Linked DNA regions of Homo sapiens: region 2 is linked to region 1. Evidence: fine-mapped expression QTL. A gene starts in region 1. The other region holds a variant in brackets. All regions are shown on one strand. Distances are from middle to middle. Region 1 holds the start of LINC01993 (long intergenic non-protein coding RNA 1993). Region 2 holds the start of LOC105371910 (a long non-coding RNA gene).

The links.
Region 2: its variant is fine-mapped to the expression of LINC01993 in lung (GTEx, PIP above 0.99). The same link has a PIP of 0.9 or more in thyroid and visceral fat.

The regions. Positions count from the first base shown.
Region 1 is chr17:78,275,380-78,280,746 of GRCh38, forward strand. It overlaps LINC01993 (long intergenic non-protein coding RNA 1993), which reads right to left and starts at 3,113. Exons shown (of 7, transcript NR_073178.1): 1 at 3,065-3,113. RefSeq lists enhancers at 868-1,137, 1,368-1,417, 1,979-2,812, 2,813-3,646.
Region 2 is chr17:78,245,697-78,251,063 of GRCh38, forward strand. LOC105371910 (a long non-coding RNA gene) reads left to right here and starts at 2,620. Exons shown (of 2, transcript NR_164160.1): 1 at 2,620-3,069. It also overlaps the pseudogene THA1P. RefSeq lists a silencer at 779-979 and enhancers at 4,367-5,012, 5,194-5,243. The variant G/C (reference allele first, on the strand shown) is at 2,506.

The DNA.
Region 1 (5,367 bases):
CCCCAACCCCTGGCAACCACCATGCTATTTTCTGTCTCTATAAATCTAACAATCTCACATGAGTGGAATCACACGGTATGTGTCTTTGTGTGACTGGCTGATTTCATTTAGTGTGATGTCTTCAAGGTGCATCCACGTGATAGCATAGGTCAGAATTTCCTTCCTTTTTAAGGCTGAATAATATTCCACCGTATGGATAGACCATAGTTTGTTTATCCATTCATGCATCCATGGATACTAGGGTTGCTTCTATCTTCTGGCTATTGCAAATGAATAATGCTGCTATGAACGTGGGTGAACATATCTCTGAGTCTCTGCTTTTAATTCTTTTGGGGATAGATACAGGAGTGGAAGTGCTGGGTTATACGCTAATTCTATGTTTAATTTTTGGAGCATCTCACCACACTGTTTTCCACAGCAATTGTACCATTTTCCATTCCCACCAAAATTGAGTGCACAGGGCCAAGCGCTGTGGCTCACACCTGTAATCCCAGCACTTTGGGAGGCCATGGCGGGTGGATCACTTGAGGTCAGGAGTTTGAGACCGGCCTGGCCAACATGGTGAAACCCCGTCTCTACTAAAAATATAAAAATTAGTCGGGCCATGGTGAAGCATGCCTGTAATCCCAGCTACTCAGGAGGCTGAGGCACGAGAATCGCTTGAATCCAGGAGGTGGAGGTTGTGGTGGGCCGAGATAGTGCCACTGCACTCCAGCCTGGATGACAGTGAGACTCCACCTCAAAAAAAAAAATTGAGTGCACAGGATTCCAATTTCTCCACATCTTCACCAACACTTGTTATTTTCTGTTGTTTTTTTTTTAAAAAAAATAGTAGCCGTCCTAATAGGTATTGAGTGGCGTCGTCTTGTGGTTTTAGTTTGCATTTCAGGCTCCATTTGACTTCGGCTGGTTTGAGGTGAGTTTCTGTTTCTTGTAACTGGCGCTAGTTCAGGTAGGCTCAGCAGCTGCAGAACTCAAAGAGATATGTTCACCCGCGTTCATAGCAGCATTATTCATTTGCAATAGCCAAAAGATAGAAGCAACCCTAGTGTCCATGGATACATGAATGGATAAACAAACTATGGTCTATCCATACTGTGGAATATTATTCAGCCTTAACAAAGGAAGGAAATTCTGACCTATGCTATCATGTGGATGAACCTTGGAGACATCACACTAAGTGAAATCAGCCAGTCACACAAAGACACATACCAGCTCAGCAGCTGCAGCACGGTAGCCAACAATAGCAGCTGTGGCTTGTGGAGAAGTTTATTTCTCCTTCTGTAACAGCCCAGGGCGGGTGCACCCGGTCTATGCAGCCCTACTCCCTTAGGGGACCCAGGCGGATGCTGCTTTGCTACCTTGACGTGGAGTTTCTGAGCTCGCTCTGCCGGTTGCCACCTGGGTCCCCAGGTGGGAGGGTGGAGCACCTGCCAGGATTGATGGGCTAAGGGCGGAACTTTCCCCTTGCATTCCATCAGGGGTATTTATCTTTTTTTTTTTTTTTTTTTTTTTGAGATGGAGTCTTGCTCTGTCACCCAGGCTGGAGTGCAGTGGTGCGATCTCGGCTCACTGCAACCTCCGCCTCCCAGGTTCAAGCAATTCTCCTGCCTCAGCCTCCTGAGTAGCTGGGATTACAGGTGCCACCATGCCCAGCTAATTTTGTTATTTTTAGTAGAGACGGGGTTTTGCCATGTTGGCCAGGCTGGTCTCAAACTCCTGACCTCAGGTGATCCGCCCACCTCGGCCTCCCAAAGTGCTGGGATTACAGGAATGAGCCACCGCACCCGGTCTCAGTTGATATTTCTAAGAATCTGCATAGAATAGACCAGCCGACCCTGGATCCTATCAGAGGGTGGAGGCTGGGAGGAGGAAGAGGATCAGGAAAAATAACTAATGCGTACTAGACTTAGTACCTGCGTGCTGAAATAATCTGTACAACAAACCCCAATGTCACGGGCTTACCTATATAACAAACCTGCACGTGGACCCCTGAACTTAAAAGGTTTTTTTAAAAAAAGAGGGTCGGGTACAGTGGCTCACACCTGTAATCCCAGCACTTTGGGAGGCCAAGGTGGGTGGATCATCTGAGGTCAGGAGTTCCAGACCAGTCTGGCCAACATGGTGGAACCCTGTCGTCTCTACTAAAAATACAAAAATTAGCCGGGCATGGTGGTGGGCGTAATCCCATCTACTCGGGAGACTGAGGCAGGAGAATTGCTTGAACCTGGGAGGCGGAGGTTGCAGTCAGCCGAGATCACACCACTGCACTCCAGCCTGGGCGACAGGGCAAGACTCTGTCTCCAAAAAAAAAAAAAAAGGGGAAGCCTGTTGCCCAAAAGGGCTGCTGTGGTACCTAAAAATGTGGGCTTTCTCCTTCTGGGAGGGGGTAGGAAGAAGTCGCCCCCACTCTCCAGGCCCACGGCTGCCCCGCCCCTGCTCACCAGCCGGCTGGCTGTGGCAAAACTAAAGCCTGCCCCGTGCCCTGAGCCCGGCATGTTGTTCAGCCTCTCTGAAATGGTCTCCTTGGATCATGGGCAGAGATGGTACGATGGGATCCCACCCGAGGGGTCCCGGCCGGTGCTCACGGGGCTGGGACCAGCTGCTCTTACTCTGTTTTTCTACCTTTCTCAGCCACTTGGAGGAAGAGAGAATTTTGTTACCTTTTACAGGTAAGGACGCTGAGGTTCACAGGATAAGTCACTTCCAGCCAGGTGTGTGTGACCTCAGATCCATACTCAGAGGGAGGTGGGCTGGGCAGAGCCTCCCACCTGCTCCCCTGGAGGCCCATGAGTCTGGGCACTGGGGCCCCAATTCCTATAAACCGGGGTTGATTACGGAGGACTCCCCTCACCTGCAACCCCGCCTCCCACCACAGAGCCCAGGCAGCAGGGAAGCCTGGAGACAGGCGCAGAGCCTCTGGGCCTGGGTGCCTACCCCTGCCCACCCCCAGGGCCTCAGGCCACAGGAGACCACCTAAAGCAGGAGCCGGGAGTAGGGCCCAGGCTGGGCTGGCACAGCTGGGCCTGTGAGGGGTGGAGGGGCCGCTGGGGAAGGGACTTACCAGCAGCAGCTCTGCTGGGACCTGGGAGGCTCTCCTCATTTCCAGTAACAAGCGGGGGTGGGGGCAGTGGGAGGGAGGAGGCGGCTTTCCCCAGGTGCCAGCTGTGCTTGAAGACAGCCTGTCCCCTCTGCTGTCTCCTGTTCTCAGCTCCTTAATCCCCTCCCCGACCTCGTAGTTGACTCCTGGGCTGACTCCTCCCCTGGAAGGGAAAGAAGAGCCGGGCTCACCCACACCCAACAGGTGCAGCAGCTGCTTGAGGTCACAGTTGCTGAGAAGGGAAGCTGAGGCCAGTGGCAGCTCCAGCCAGGGTTGGTGCAGCCTGCTGAGGGGTCGAGGTCACCCAATCACCCACCCAGCTCCACCTGCCCCCACCCCTCCCACCCAGCCTGGCCACCAGCCCAGACACCTTCCTCACATGGCCTGAAGACCCCTGCTGACCTGTGGCACCATGTGGCCCAGCAGGGTGGCCAGGCTGGCCGGGGTCATGGGGTGGGGGACGCTGCTCCCCACCTGCCCTGGGGTGGTCGGTGCTGTTGGGGAGGCCACTCTCTAGGGGCATCTGCCAGGTAGGCAGACCAGAAACTTACCCCGAGTTCTGTGACCCGCTCCGGGGAGCGGGGCATCTCATGTCCTCTCAGCCACGTCTGAAAGCTGGGACATGGCAGAGTGGGCAGGGCTGCCCTCTGAGCTGACCCCCTTCCCCTCCTCCCCATCTTGTCTCTCCTCAGATCTAGGGCTCACTCTGAGGCGTGGGTGACACTTGCCCCCCAACCCCAGCCTCTTCAGTGCAGGGAGGCAGGGCCTGAACTTCGGAGGGCCTTGGGGCAGGTTCCTGGGGCTTGCAGTGAGGCCTCCCCTTTCCCAGGGAGAGGAAGGGAGAAGCCGCGTCTGGCGAGGGAAGCCTGTACCCTCACCCTCACTGTGTCCAGATCTGCACCCCTAACCTGGCCTGGGGAGACTGGCACCAGGTGGAGCTGGTCCCCAAGGAGCCCCAAACCCCAGAACATCTGCTGCAGGGGTCAGCTCTCAGGGGGCCCCAGGGCCAGTCCTCTCTGCACCCCACCTTCCCTGCTCAATGTGGCTTGTAGGAGGTTATGCAAAGCATTATGCAAAGCACATGCAAATGAGACCCAACCACAACTGGTCACTCTCTCCAGGCAAGACCACTGAAGCCCTCTGGTCATCAGCAGGAATGCAGGGGCGCCTATGGCAGGCCGGACTCCAGGTCAGGCCTTGGGGCAGTGAGGAAGAAGGTGCATGCCAGGTAAGCTATAGTCAAAAGGGAGGGACACACACCACCAGGCGAATGAATGAAGCAAATCAATGGCACTCCTCCCTGCCCCAGAATTCAAAATGACAGACCGGTGCAGACAGATGCATGTGTGTTCTGAGAGGTGGTTGTGTACAAGCAAGCTCACTCCTTCAGTCTCCCATTCATTCACTTATTCTGCAAACTCGGTGTCTATTATGAGCCTGGGCTGTTCCAGGGGCTGGGGATATCCCAGCAGATGAAAATGCCTGCTTTGCAGGGCTCCAGTAGGGAGAGAAAGATACAGGTGACAAGTCAGGATGAGCAAGGAGGACACACCGGTGTATGTTCCAGAAACCATAAGGAGGCTGGAGCCAGGCACAGGGAGCCCTGGGCCTTGGGAAGAGTATGGTCTGTGCAGGGGCCATGTAGTGGGAGGGGGCCCTGCAACATCAACCCAGGTGCCCTGGGGAGGTTGTGGTGGAAACAGGCAGAGCACGGAGGGAACCAAGTTCCCCGGGCAGGAGATGCCAGGGGCTGCGGCCAGGGGTGGCAGTGGAAGGGCTGAGAAGTGGTCGGATTCTGGGTTAGGAAGAGAAAGCTGCCCTTTGCCCTCTGAAGCTTCGCCGAAAAATCAGCGGACAAAAGGCAGATTCATAGGAGAAAAGGCTCACAAAATTTACTGTAACTGCATAGCACAGGACTCCCCGGACGTGATTACCCAGTAATCCAGAGGGGTCCAGAACCTGCCATGCCCTTCCTCATGGGAGAAGAGGTGGTGGGAAACCACCTCTTTGAGGCAAAGTCAATGATTTTTGGGGGGAAATGAAATGAATGGGCCCCTTGCTCAGACAATGGTTAGTGAATAATTCTCTTTGGGAATCAAATAGGACCAAAGAACAGACAATGGTTTGGGAGGAAGTTGGTCTGGGCTCTAGGTGTGGTGGTTCATTGCAGCCTCTTCCTTTGTGATGTGAGTTTTAATCTTCTCCGGTTAATAACATTTCAGGGAAGGCAATTGTGTTCCTCTTGGCCAGTCTGGTTTCTAGGTAGT
Region 2 (5,367 bases), 30 kb before region 1:
AGTTCCAAGATTCCTGCCAAATTTTTTTTATCTTGACTTATAATTCCTTGAATATTTTATTTTTTATTTTTTTGAGATGGGGGTCTCTCTGTGTCACCCAGGCTGGAATGCAGTGGCACAATCTTAGCTCACTGCAACCTCCACCTCCTGGGAGGCTCAAGCAATCCTCCCACCTCAGTCCCCCATGTAGCTGGGTCTACAGGTGCCACATCTGGCTAATTTTTGTACTTTTAAGTAGAAACAGGGTTTTACCATGTTGCCCAGGCTGGTTTCAAACTCCTGGGTTCAAGCAATCTGCCTGCCTCGGACTCCCAAAATGCTGGGATTACAAGCATGAGCCACCACACCCAGCCTAGAATATTTAATTTAATTAATTAATTTATTTATTTATTTTGAGACGGAGTCTCACCGTCACCCAGGCTGGAGTGCAGTGGCGCAATCTTGGCTAACTGCAACCTCTGCCTCCCGGGTTCAAGCGATTCTCCTGCCTCAGCCTCCAGAGTAGCTGGGATTACAGGTGTGTGCCACCATGCCCAGCTAATTTTTGTATTTTTAGTAGAGATGGAGTTTCACCATGTTTGCTAGGCTGGTCTCGAACTCCTGATCTCAAGTGATCCACCCACCTCGGCCTCCCAAAGTGCTGGGATTGTAGGCATGAGCCACCACACTCAAGCTATTTATTTTTTTAGAGATGGGTCTCGCTCTGTCACCCAGGTTGGAGTGCAGTGGCATGATCACGGTTCACTGCAGCCTTGAACTCCTGGGCTCAAGTGATCCTCCCACCTCAGCCTCCTGGGTAGCTGGGACTACAGGCACAAGCCACTTTGTTATCTGGGTCACCTAAGGGTCTGTTTCTTTTTTTTTTTTTTTGGAGACAGAGTCTTGCTGTGTCACACAGGCTGGAGTACAACAGTGTGATCTTGGCTCACTGCAACCTCCACCTCCTGGGTTCAAATGATTCGCTTGCCTCAGCCTCCCGAATAGCTGGGATTACAGGCCCACACCACTATGACCAGCTAAATTTTTTTTTGGATTTTTAGTAGAGATGGGGTTTCACCATGTTGGCCAGGCTGGTCTCAAACTCCTGACCTCAAGTGATCTGCCCGCCTCTGCCTCCCAAAGTGCTGGGATTAGAGGCATGAGCCACTGCGCCTGGCCTCTTTTGTCCATTTTTTTCTCATTTTCAATCACATCTTGTCCCATTCTATACCTGGTTATTTCTGATTGAGTGGGGGCATCCCACATGAATAACTGTAGAGGAAATTGGAGGCTCTGGGAGACGTCACCTTCCTCCAGAGAAGACGGATCTTTACTTCTGGCAGGCAGCTAGGCCAGAGGCACCCACCACCCCAGATTGCCGTAATCAGGGATCACAGTGCTTCACAGCTGGCTTCACTTCTCACGATGGTCAGTCTACTTCCAATTGCCCTTACTCCTAGTGGGTGGCCCCTCAGGGACTCAACCCAAAGCTTGAGGGTTTTTTTGTTTGTTTGTTTGTTTTTTGAGACAGAGTCTTGCTTGAGGGACTCTTACCAGGGTCTTTCAGCAGGCCTTGAACTTCAGCTTCTGCCCTCAGCCCTGTGTGCCTGTGAAAAGTTCTGCTCAGTTCCTCAGCTCCCGAGCAGACGCGTCGAGGAAAAGTGTCCCAAATGCCAGGCTCACCTCTCTAGGTTCCCTCTTCTCCCAGATCTTGACCTCACAATTCATGACTGCCTTGCAGGCTCTTCAGTACTATCAGATTGTTTGTTTGTTTATTTGTTGAGACAGGGTCTCCCTCTGTCGCCCAGGCTGGAATGCAGTGGTGTGATCTCGGCTCACTGCAGACTCCACCTCCTGGACTTAAATGATCCTCCTACCCCAGGCTCCCACGTAGCTGGGACCACAGATGCACACCCCACCACGCCTGGCTTCATTTTTTTTTTTTTGACTGAGTCTGCCTGAACTACCCTAAGAGTTGCTAAAAGTAAGATTTACTCCCACATCATCTACAATACAGACATATTATTTTGTTAAGCAGAGTAATTTCTTTTCCTTTTTTTTTTTTTTGAGACGGAGTCTGGCTCTGTTACCCAGGCCGGAGTGCAGTGGCGTAATCTCGGCTCACTGCAACCCCCACCTCCCCAGTTCAAGCGATTCTCTCACCTCTGCCTCCCGAGTAGCTGGGACTACGGGTACGCACCACCACACCTGGCTAATTTTTGTATTTTTAGTAGAGATGGGGTTTCACCATGTTGGCCAGGCTGGTCTCGAACTCCTGACCTCAAGTGATCCACCCACCTCGGCCTCCCAAAGTGCTGGGATTACAGGCGTGAGCCACCATGCCCGGCCCTGAGTAATTTATTTTCTAAAAAGGAAAATACGTATTAGAGGACCACAAGATAAAATGGAAATCCCTCACCACGGCAGTTAAAGCCCTGACCATCAAGTTCCCATGTCCCTTTCTGCTTCCTTCTGACGTTTCCCTTCCTGAACTCAGGAAGCTGTAACTGGCCACGTGGCCCTGAA[G/C]AAAGGGCTCCTCTCTGACCTAGAGCGAAGGCCTGCCCCGCTGCCTCCCGAGCTCTGGTGACGGGAGCTGGAAGGGTGTCCTTCCTGTCCCTACACCCTGTCCCAGACACTGGAGGAATTCAGTGTGTGCTGACAAGCATGGGGGAGGTCCTAACCCTGAGTGTTGTGGGGGTGAAGGGGACCAAAGAGCCCCAGGAGCAGGTAACACCTCCTCTGCTGCCTGCTTGCTGGGAACACCTCCACTCCCTGCTTCCACCCCAGCCCGGGCACAGGGTCCCGGTCACTCCGTCCTCAGGACTCCAACGGCCTCAGCACAAACTCCCACTTCCTCAGCACCAGTTCAGTGTCCTACACCGAGACGTCGCGGTGCCACACGGAAGCACGGACTGCTCTGTCCATAGGAACAGTGGCACGCACGCCACGTGGCCAGTGTGGGCCAGCTCATCAGCACTCACGGCCCGCAACCCAGCCATGCTCACCACCACCATGTTCGTCTCCACGAAGGTGGGATCAACTGAGCAGACGGACAACACCAGCTCCTGGAGTCCTGGGCCAGGTCCTGAGGTGAGCAGAGGTGACCCCAGGCCCTGACCCTGACCCCATTGCCAGCAAGGTCACCCGGGAGGCAGGGGGCAGTTCGGTCACGGTAGGAGAAGGAAGGGCCCTGTGTCCTGACTTGGCCTTTGCAGTCACACAGACTGGGCTCTGCTGCGTTTAGCTATGTGATCTCAGACAAACCTATTGACCTCTCTGGGCCTCTGTTTCCTCATTGTGAAGTAGGGACATCATGGGATTGTTGGAGGACTCAGTGAGCAGATGGAAGACCCAGGTTAGAGGCTCTGCCAGACTCTGCAGAGCATCACAATCCTGGCCGTCCACCGAGGGCTTCCCCAGGCTGGACTCTGCGCTGAGTAGGGTCTGCTGAAGCAGCTGGTGCCCTGGGTCCCGCCCTAGTGACTCAATGGCCACCCTGAGTCCCAGGATCCAGAAGCCTGCAGGCCTGCTGGGGGACCCCCGACGGCACAGCTCAGGCCAAGTCAGAGGAAGCACAGGGAAGCGAGGGTGGGGCGTCCTGTCCAGGCACCTTGGGTGAATCTCTGGGCGTTCCCATGGTCTTGCCACAGTGCCTGCTTTGTGTCAACCAGTCCCACCAGGGCCACCGCAGCCAGCATCCCCACCTGGTGCATGCTTCCACCCAGGGCTTTTTGGAGGCGCCAGGCTTCTTCAATGAAGTCCTTGGGCCTCCCAGCCAGGGACCCCACTGGGGCGCCCAGGCCCTGGGAGGTGGAGAGGAGAGACTCCTGCCAGCTCACATCCCTGTCCTTGGGCCAGGGTGGGGACAGATGCGTAGCCCCATCTGCAGAGGTGTTAAAGGGGAACCTGGGGCCAGCTGCCAGGGATGGAGCTCAGGAATCCAACCCTGCCTCCTGCTGGGGCGCCCCACCCCACCTGTCTGTGGGAGGCCAGCCCAGGGCTTTCCCACCTTGGAGAGGCAGAAAGACACAGAGTCACAGTGCTCCACAATGTAGGTGGGCGGGACATGCAGGGCCAGCACCACGTTCATCAGCTGGGCCCTGTCCAGGTGGACCCAGGCCCCATAGGTCTGGGCCAGGAGGTGCACCTGGGGGTGAGGTGCAGGCAGAGTCAGAGGGGCCAGGCCTGAGGGAGGCATAGAGGGAGGAGGGTCCTGGGCTTAGCTGCCTGAGGAATCAGGAGGGATCAGGAGACCTGGCTGGTGACTGGCTCTGGTGATCTGGGACCCAAGCAGTCAGGCTGTGCTGCCTAAGCCTCCATGCTGGGCTCTGGGAGGATCTGGGGGTGCACATTTAACCCAGCTTTGTCGCACACTGAGCATGGGCCAAACGACCGTGGGCCAAGGGTAAATGTGTGTCACCTCATTTAGGCTGCACAACAACTCGAGGGAGACGCCGCTGCTCCCATTTCACAGGCAAGGAACGCAAGGCTTGGAGAGTTAGGCTGCTGCCTAACTAGTGTCTGGTAAACAGCAGAGCTCAGACACTGCGGCCTCCTCACCTCGCACGTGGGTGGCAAGGACCAGGTGGAGGGCACTCACACGAGCTTGTTCCTGCAGCCTCATGGGGCACACGTTTCTGCGCCAGGGCAGCAGGTCCTGGTGCTGCTCTGGGACTCAGCTCTGGGGACTTGGGGGTGGGGGCATCTCTGCTGTTGGGCTGGTGCAGGGACTAGGGGCCCTGACCTGGGGTAATAATTCCCTTTGTGTCTCAGCCTAGGACCACACATGTGTCCTTCCTGTGACAGGTCTGGCCGCTGATGGGTGCCCATGGCATAAATCAGAGGGGACTGAACCCCAGGATGGGCCAGGGGCACAGGAAGCCAGGATCAGGCTGGTGGGGGGCACACAGTGGTGGGGCTGGGCCTACCTGGCGTAGGTAGTTGATGGGGAGGATCCGGACCCCCGAGATGCTGTGTGAGTTCTCCAGGCAAATGAGCTCGCAGACCTGGTGGTAGGGACTCTGGAGGCCCCGCGTGATCATCCTCTCCAGCTCAGCCAGTCCAGAGTGCAGTGGGGCAGCTCTGGGAGGGAGTGGGAGTGCACTCCAGCCCTCTGTGGGTCAGGAAGAGGATGAGGGCTGAGGGGTCCAGGGGCACCTCTTGGCGGAGTGGGGGGCTCCTCTGGAGTAAGGAGCCAGACCCTGAGTCCTGTGTCTGCTCCCCCGAGGCCTGGGCCTTGGAGCCTTTCCTCTGTTCTGTGCATCTAGACAGACGTCCCAGCTGGGGGGCACTGGGCCCCTCCCCTATTAACTCTTCAGATGCTGCTGTCTGGCTCCCGTCGGGAGCGCGGGAGTGCTCCGAGTGTCCACTAGAGGGCACCAGGCACCA